Homo sapiens: one gene and its partner. The protein of the gene in region 1 interacts with the protein of each later gene in a biochemical or structural test. Each region holds a gene or a part of one and is shown on either strand. Other genes may lie near its edges. The genes, in order: KANSL1 and BAZ1B.

The links.
Region 2: the proteins of KANSL1 (region 1) and BAZ1B form a complex in vitro, tested with the Homo sapiens proteins (one study listed by BioGRID).

The regions. Positions count from the first base shown.
Region 1 is NC_000017.11:46,036,110-46,039,929, reverse strand, and holds part of KANSL1 (KAT8 regulatory NSL complex subunit 1), read left to right. Parts: intron 1-45; coding exon 46-228; intron 229-714; coding exon 715-903; intron 904-1,243; coding exon 1,244-1,392; intron 1,393-3,820. UniProt on the Homo sapiens protein: Non-catalytic component of the NSL histone acetyltransferase complex, a multiprotein complex that mediates histone H4 acetylation at 'Lys-5'- and 'Lys-8' (H4K5ac and H4K8ac) at transcription start sites and promotes transcription initiation.
Region 2 is NC_000007.14:73,512,188-73,516,007, forward strand, and holds part of BAZ1B (tyrosine-protein kinase BAZ1B), read right to left. Parts: intron 1-3,820. UniProt on the Homo sapiens protein: Atypical tyrosine-protein kinase that plays a central role in chromatin remodeling and acts as a transcription regulator. Involved in DNA damage response by phosphorylating 'Tyr-142' of histone H2AX (H2AXY142ph).

The DNA of each region.
Region 1 (3,820 bases):
GGCCAGGTGTTTGGACTAACCTGTAGCATTTTATGTTTCTTGCAGATGTTCCCACAAGCCTGCATTTCCAGAGCATGCTGAAATCTCAGTGGCAGAACAAGCCTTTTGACAAAATCAAACCTCCCAAAAAGTTATCGCTTAAGCACAGAGCACCCATGCCGGGCAGTCTGCCAGATTCAGCTCGTAAGGACAGGCACAAATTGGTCAGCTCCTTCCTAACAACAGCCAGTAAGTGTCAGGGAGCCGGGAAGTCCCCCAGAGTATCAGTGACTTTTCATTCCTTTTATATTCTCAAATTTGTAGTTTGCATGCATGTTGGGGTTGGGAGAGGCAGTTGACCGATAAAAAATTCAGCTCACAGTGACTGCTTCTGCTTGTCTTGGATGCTCTCAGATGGACTTCGGGAGCTATTCTAGACACCATGGATCTTGGAGCAAGACCCAAAATGCTCAGTGAACAGCCAGCAATGGCATGGCATTGAGTTCATCTACGGGCAGGTGTCTTCTGTATCCTGGTGACATGTTTCTCTGGTTCTGGGCTCCCTGTGCCTATCCTAGCCATTGTGCAAATTACTAGAAACTTCAGTCCTGAAGGACTGTCCTGCTGCCCTGGGTATACGGCGTTGGCCTAGAGAGAACTCGAGAGCTTGGAACTCGAATAAGAAAATATTTGAGAGGACATATTTCACAGCTCTTTTTCTGTTCCCCTCTTCAGAGCTGTCCCATCACCAAACCCGGCCTGACAGGACCCACAGGCAGCACTTAGACGATGTGGGGGCCGTGCCCATGGTGGAGCGAGTGACAGCGCCAAAAGCAGAGCGCTTGCTCAACCCACCACCACCCGTGCATGACCCAAACCACAGCAAAATGAGATTGCGAGACCATTCATCTGAGAGAAGTGAAGGTAGGGCCAGGCCCATGGCACCTCTACCTGCAACTGCACCTGCTCAGGGCTTTCTGGGGCAGCCTAGGCTTCTCTTAATTACCCCCAGCTTTGTCCTTCACTTTCTAGGAAAGCAGAGTAGAGGGACGCTACTGCTTCTAAATGGAGGTCACTTCTTAACTGCTACAGCAACCTCTGCCCTGCCCCTACTTCCCACAGCTAGTGTGCTTCACCTTTTTATCCTCTAGGCATAGAAAACATTTTTGCCTTTAGTATGTATTGCTGCCATTCCAAGCTTGTGTTAGAAGTAACGCTGGTTAAGATAGCCATGTATTTCTCTCTTTTCTGTTGACTTCTGCAGTGTTGAAGCATCACACAGACATGAGCAGTTCGAGCTACTTGGCAGCCACCCACCATCCTCCACACAGTCCCTTGGTGCGACAGCTCTCCACCTCCTCAGATTCCCCTGCACCCGCCAGCTCTAGCTCACAGGTTACAGCCAGCACATCGGTAAGTACCTGTGTGGGGTTGGCCGGACACCCCCTCTGCAGGTCACAGCTCACTCAAGTGGCTCCAGAGGACAGTGTGAGGGTGGGTTATAAAGCCCAGGGCATTTATAGGATCTCAGCTCATCATGACATATGTATGTATGTCTGTACCATTTTTAAGTCAAAGTCATGGTACTTGACCTTCTGTTGTTTTTCTTGAGTTGTTTTTCATAGCAGAGATGGATTTATGCTGAGCCATCCATAGAAAGCTTGATGCAGGGACAAACTCTTAAGGTGATCTGTGACTATTCAAGATCTGTTGGACTAAGTTTCACACAGGACTCAACAGTTCCGTGGCCCTAATCCTGTTGGCCCAAGAAGTGAACAAGAGAGGAGGGGTGGGTAGAGGGGAGATTCCCATGGGCGTTGGAAGCAGTGTTTGATTTCCTTGGTTTTACTCTCTGGGTGAGTGGAGGTGAAGTACTAAGAATAAACACTAGGCGTGAGGGTACCAGAAGAGAAGGGAAGGGAGAAGGCAGAGTCCATGCTTTTTAGGTATACAGAGCAGAATTACAGATCCAGCAGGCCCCCATGGCAGGACATTTGGCATGCACACACCAGATTTTACGATACCACACTCCATCTGGAAGCAGTTTGCACAGCTATTCCAGACACATTTCCTTTAATTTCATTCTAATATTTTAATTCCTCAAGTGTGCCCTCTTGGAACATACATACCTGTAGCTGCTATGGACCTACTCAAAGGGTCCTTTTTGTATAATAATTACAATGTAATGTAATGGTAAATGTAAAAGTCTGCAACTGTAATGTTTATTGAACACTTACTACATACCAGTGATCAGTGATTTACATGTGTTACATGTTATAATGCCTTTTGAGATGTAGGTTGGTACTGTGGATTTCATTTTATATGCATGAAAACTGTCAAGGCAACTTGTGAGGGTTATAATTATGATTCAAACTCAGGCAGCCTGACTGTAGAGCCAGCTCTTTTACCATTACACTACACAGGCTAAGCCTGGGTGAGGGTATTGCAGAGGCAACTTAGGAAGTTCCTTCAGAGCCTAGATCAGGAAACTTCCAAGCTCATAAAATGGACTCACTAGGCTCCTGTGATCAGGTAGGAATTCACATTGTTCTCTCTTTGCTGTTACAAATCAATCTTTTCCAAATGGTCTCTTTGCTCTTCGACTTTCTTTACCCCCGTAACCCACAAATTTTATCTAAATAGGTGTGTAGTGTCCCTCACATACTCAGTTATCCAGCAGCAAAGGGTTTCAGATAACCAAAGTATTTATAAAAAAGAGTCTAAACTAATTCTGATAGAAAATCTGAACTCAGAGATTCAGGACTTGGTGAGCACTTCAATATTTCTGTGTCTGGAGAATGTTAACTTAGGCCTGGATCACTTGAAATTTTTACCATTTATTGAGTAAAAATTTTGTGTATAGCACTATGCTAACCCCTGAGGCTCTCTCATTGCCAAGTTTTTTCAAAGACTCTGGATTTATGTAAAAGAAGATAGGCCAGGCACAGTGGCGCTCACCTATAATCCCAGCACTTGGGGAGGCGGCTGAGGCGGGTGGATCACTTGAGGTCAGGAGTTCGAGACCATCCTGGCCAATAAGGTGAAACCCTATCCCTACTAAAAATACAAAAATTAACTGGGCGTGGTGGCATGTGCCTATAGTTCCAGCTACTCTGAGGCAGGAGAATCACTTGAACTGGGAAGCGGAGGTTCCAGTGAGCGGAGATCAAGCCATTGCACTCAAGCCTGGGCGTCGCAGCAAGACTTCGTCTCAAAAAAAAAAAAAGAAAGAAGATAGGCCAGATAACAGCAGGCTCTCAGTATCTGCAGTATCTGCAGTGGGGATTGGTTCCAGGACCTCCCATAGATAGCAAAAGCTATTGTTGCTCATGTCCCTAATATAAAATGGCATAGTATTTGCATATAACCTATGTGTATGCTTTAAATCCCATATACTTTAAATCATCTCCAGATTACTGATAATACCTAATGCAATGTAAATGCTATAAAAATAGTATGCTGTATTGTTTAGAGAATAATGAAAAGAAAAATCTGTACCTTTTCAGTACAGACACAATTTTTTTCCCCCAAATATTTTCAATCCACAATTGGTTGAACCCATGGATACAAAGGGCCAGCTCTCCTTGAAATCAAGTAAAGAAGCCAGAGGACACTGGAGAAAGGTAGGGAGGAGAGCGAGTGTTTTTGTCAGTGCTTCCCAAAAGCCAGTAGCTGCATCAGAATCACCTCAGCAGCTTTAAAAAACAAAACCAACCAACCAGACACTTCTAAAGATCTGATTTGTTGCTGGCTGTGATATTGCATGCCTGTAGCTCCAGCTACTCAGGAAGATCTCTTCAGCCCAGGAGATTGAGTCCAGCCTGGACAACATAGTGAGACC
Region 2 (3,820 bases), on another chromosome or scaffold:
AGGGTTTACAAGCTTGTCCAACCTTTGTCCAACCTGCGGCCCAGGACGGCTTTGAACACAGCCCAACACAAGTTCATAAAGTTTCTTAAAACATTATGAGTTTTTTGTGTGATTTTTTTTTTTTTTAGCTGATCAACTGTTTTTAGTGTTAGTGTATTTTATGTGTGGCCCGAGACAATTCTTCTTCCAATATGGCCAAAAGATTGGCTACCCTGGTTTAAAAAATAAATTTCATAAAATACTTAGAAGTATTCCGGAAAGTACTTTTGATATAATATTTATCCAGTCTCTATGATGTCTCCAATAATACTGAGATTCAGAAGATCATTTACTAGCCGTTTAGACAGTCTTCGTGAGGGAGACGAGGGAAAGAAAAACATCAAGTTGGTAGTGTAAATATGGCAACTTTCCACACAAAACCAACTGGAATTCACCATCAGCCAGCCACTTCCAAATTCAAACGGCAAGTAACTAATTTACTTTTAAGCACAGCAACAGATGCTATGTAAGAAAATCAACTGACATAAGTAGAAAGTTAGTGAACAATACCTGTATATTCCAAGTGACACATTTTATAGTGGTTGAAATAAAAGTATTTAAACAGTTTCCTCTACAATACTATCTAACAAATAAACAAATATTCTAATTTTTGTTTTTTGGAAACAAGGCTGGCCTGTATCTCCTGAGCTCAAGAGATCCTCCTACCTTAGCCTCCTGAATAGCTGGGATTACAGACTTACACTGCAGCATCTAGCTCATTTTTATCTATTTATGTATTTATTTTTGACACAGGGTCTCACTCTGTCACCCAGGCTGAAGTGCAGTGGTGGGATCATGGCTCACTGTAGCCTTGACCTCCTGGGGTCAAGCAATCCTGGGCCTCAGCCTCCTGAGTAGCTAGGACTACAGGTGCACACCACCATGCCCACCTACATTTTTTATCTTTGCAGAGTCAGGGTCTCACCACATTGCCCAGGTTGGTCTTGAACTCCTGGGCTCAAACAGTCCTCCTGCCTCAATCTCCCAAAGTTATGGGATTACAGGTGTGAGCCACCACGCCCAGCCGCATGTTTAATAAATATAGATGCTTGGTTTTCCAAGGTTATGATCAGCAAAAACGCAAACAAGAACAAACCCACAGGTAATCCAAAATAGTAACTTTATGCAATAGTATAAGCACCTTTGCTCATTGTGGATCTTTCCCCAGATCTGCTAAAACTGAGTAATAAATCCATTTTCCTTACAGGGGTGGTGCTAATATCTAAGTGATTAAACAAAATATATAGAATGTTTGAGTAAAAACCTGAGTCAGACTTCCATATACAGATATGTAAATCCAATCACCGAAAAATTTTCAAACTTATACCCAGAGAAGAGCAACGGAACGGCTTCCAGAGGACATTATCCCAAGACGGATTTGTCTTATTTTTGTCTACTGAACTAGGGGAGTGGAAGGGATGGGTAGTAAAATAAGGACAGAGGAGGAATCAGTAAGTGGACTTATTTAAGCTTTCAAAAAGCTTGATAACATTCTAACACATTATTTAGCCATATTTAAGAAGCTCCAACAGGCATGGTAGCTTACACATGCAATCCCAGCATTTGGGAGGACAAAGTGGGGGGATCTTGAGCCCAGGGGTTCAAAACCAGCCTGAACATAGCGACTTTACAAAAAACTATTAAAAGAAAAAAAAAAACTCACTGTGTCATCAGAGAGAATGTAAGAGAAATACATTAACAAATATGTCTTAAAGAGAGAACAGTAAGTTTTTATTATTACAGGTTGAGGATCCCTTATCCAAAATGCTTAGAACCGGGAGTATTTTGGATTTTGAATTTCTTTCAGATTTTGGAGTATTTGCATTATACTTACTAGTTCAGCATCCCAAATCCAAATATCCAAAATGCTCCAATGAGCTCTTCCTTTGACGATCATGTTGGGGCTCAAAAACTTTCAGATTTTGGAGCATTTCTGATTTATGGATTTGGGATGTTCAACCTAGAGTTGTTACTTTAAAAAGCAGGGGCCAGAAAAAAACAAAACAAAAAAAAGTAGGGGCCGGCCAGGCACAGTGGCTCATGCCTATAATCCTGGCATTTTGGGAGGCCAAGGCAGGTGGATCACCTGAGGTCAGGAGTTCGAGACCAGCGTGGCCAACATGGTGAAACCCCCGTCTCTACTAAAAATACAAAAAATTAGCCAGGCGTGGTGGCGTGCGGCTGTAATCCCAGCTACTCGGGAGGCTGATGCAGGAGAACTGCTTGAACCTTGGAGACGGAGGTCGCAGTGAGCTGAGATCATGCCATTGCACTGTAGCCTGGGCAACAAGAGTGAAACTCAGTCTCAAAAAAAAAAAAAAAAACTGCATAGTGGCAGTTTATGAGGCCCAGGCACGAACATCGCTCAAGCCCAGGAGTTCAAGAGCAGCCTGGGCAACATAGCAAAACCCCATCTCTATTAAAAAAAAATTAGTTGAATGTGGTGGCACAGGCCTGTAGTTCCAGCTACTCAGGGATCTGAGGTGGGAGGATCACTTGAGCCCAGGAGGTGGAGGTTGCAGTGAGCTGTGATGGAGAGCAACAGAGGGAGACTGTCTAAAAAAAGAAGATTAGCCCGGGCATGGTGGGTCACGCCTGTAATCCCAGCACTTTGGGAGGCTGAAGTGGGTGGATCACGAGGTTAGGAGTTCAAGACCAGCCTGGCCAAGATGGTGAAACCCTGTCTCTACTAAAAAACTAGCCACGCATGGTGGCGGGCGCCTGTAATCCCAGCTACTCGGGAGGCTGAGGCAGAGAACTGCTTGAATGAGGAAGGCGGAGGTTGCAGTGAGCCAAGATCACACCGCTGTACTCCACCCTGGATGACAGAGTGAGAATCTGTCTCAAAAAAAAACAAAAAACCTCCAAACTCACACAATCACGACGAACTCATCACACCTTCTCTGCCAAGAATATACAGTCCTCTATTATTCGTCTAAATTCTAATCATCCTTTAGATCTCAAAAATAACTTTTCCCAGAAAACATTCATTGAACCTTCAAATATGATAGATTGTATTAGTTTCTAACTATTCACCTCCTTTCCATAAGAGGATTTTTACATCTCCACCCACTGCCATGTGGCTTGTCTACAAGGTCCCTGAAGAGGAATGTACCTCCCCTCTTCATTAACATCAAGCTTGACCCCGTGACTGGTTTCGACCAATAGATGTGAGCAGATGTAATATATGTCACTTCCCGGAAGAGGCTTAAAGTCATGATGTCTTCTAGCTCTTTCTTTGTGCCACTAGCAAACTAGCAAGCAAGACATGTCACACACAGGGTCTGCCCCTCCAGCCTTGTTCCTTTTTTTTTTTTTTTTTTTTTTTTGAAGCAGGGTCTTGCTCTGTCACCCAAGCTGGAGTGCAATAGCACCATCTCGCTTCACTGCAACCTTTGCCTCCTGGACTCAAGTGATCCTCCCACCTCAGCCTCCCAAGTAATTGGGACCACAGGCAAACGCCAGCATGTCCAGCTAATTTTTCTATTTTTTTTGTAGAGACAGGGTTTCATTCACTGTTGTCCAGGCTGACCTCAAATTCCTGGGCTCAAGCAATTCACCTGCCTCAGCCTCCCAAAGTGCTGGCATGAACAACCATACCAGGTGTCAGCCTTGGTCTTAAAATGAGAAAAATGTGGAAGGGTGTGGTGGCTCACGCCTGTAATCCCAGCACTTTGGGAGGCAGAGGGGAACGGATCACTTGAGGCCAGGTGTTCGAGACTAGCCTGGCCAACACGGTGAAACCCCGTCTCTACTTAAAAAGTGCAAAAAAGGAGCCAGG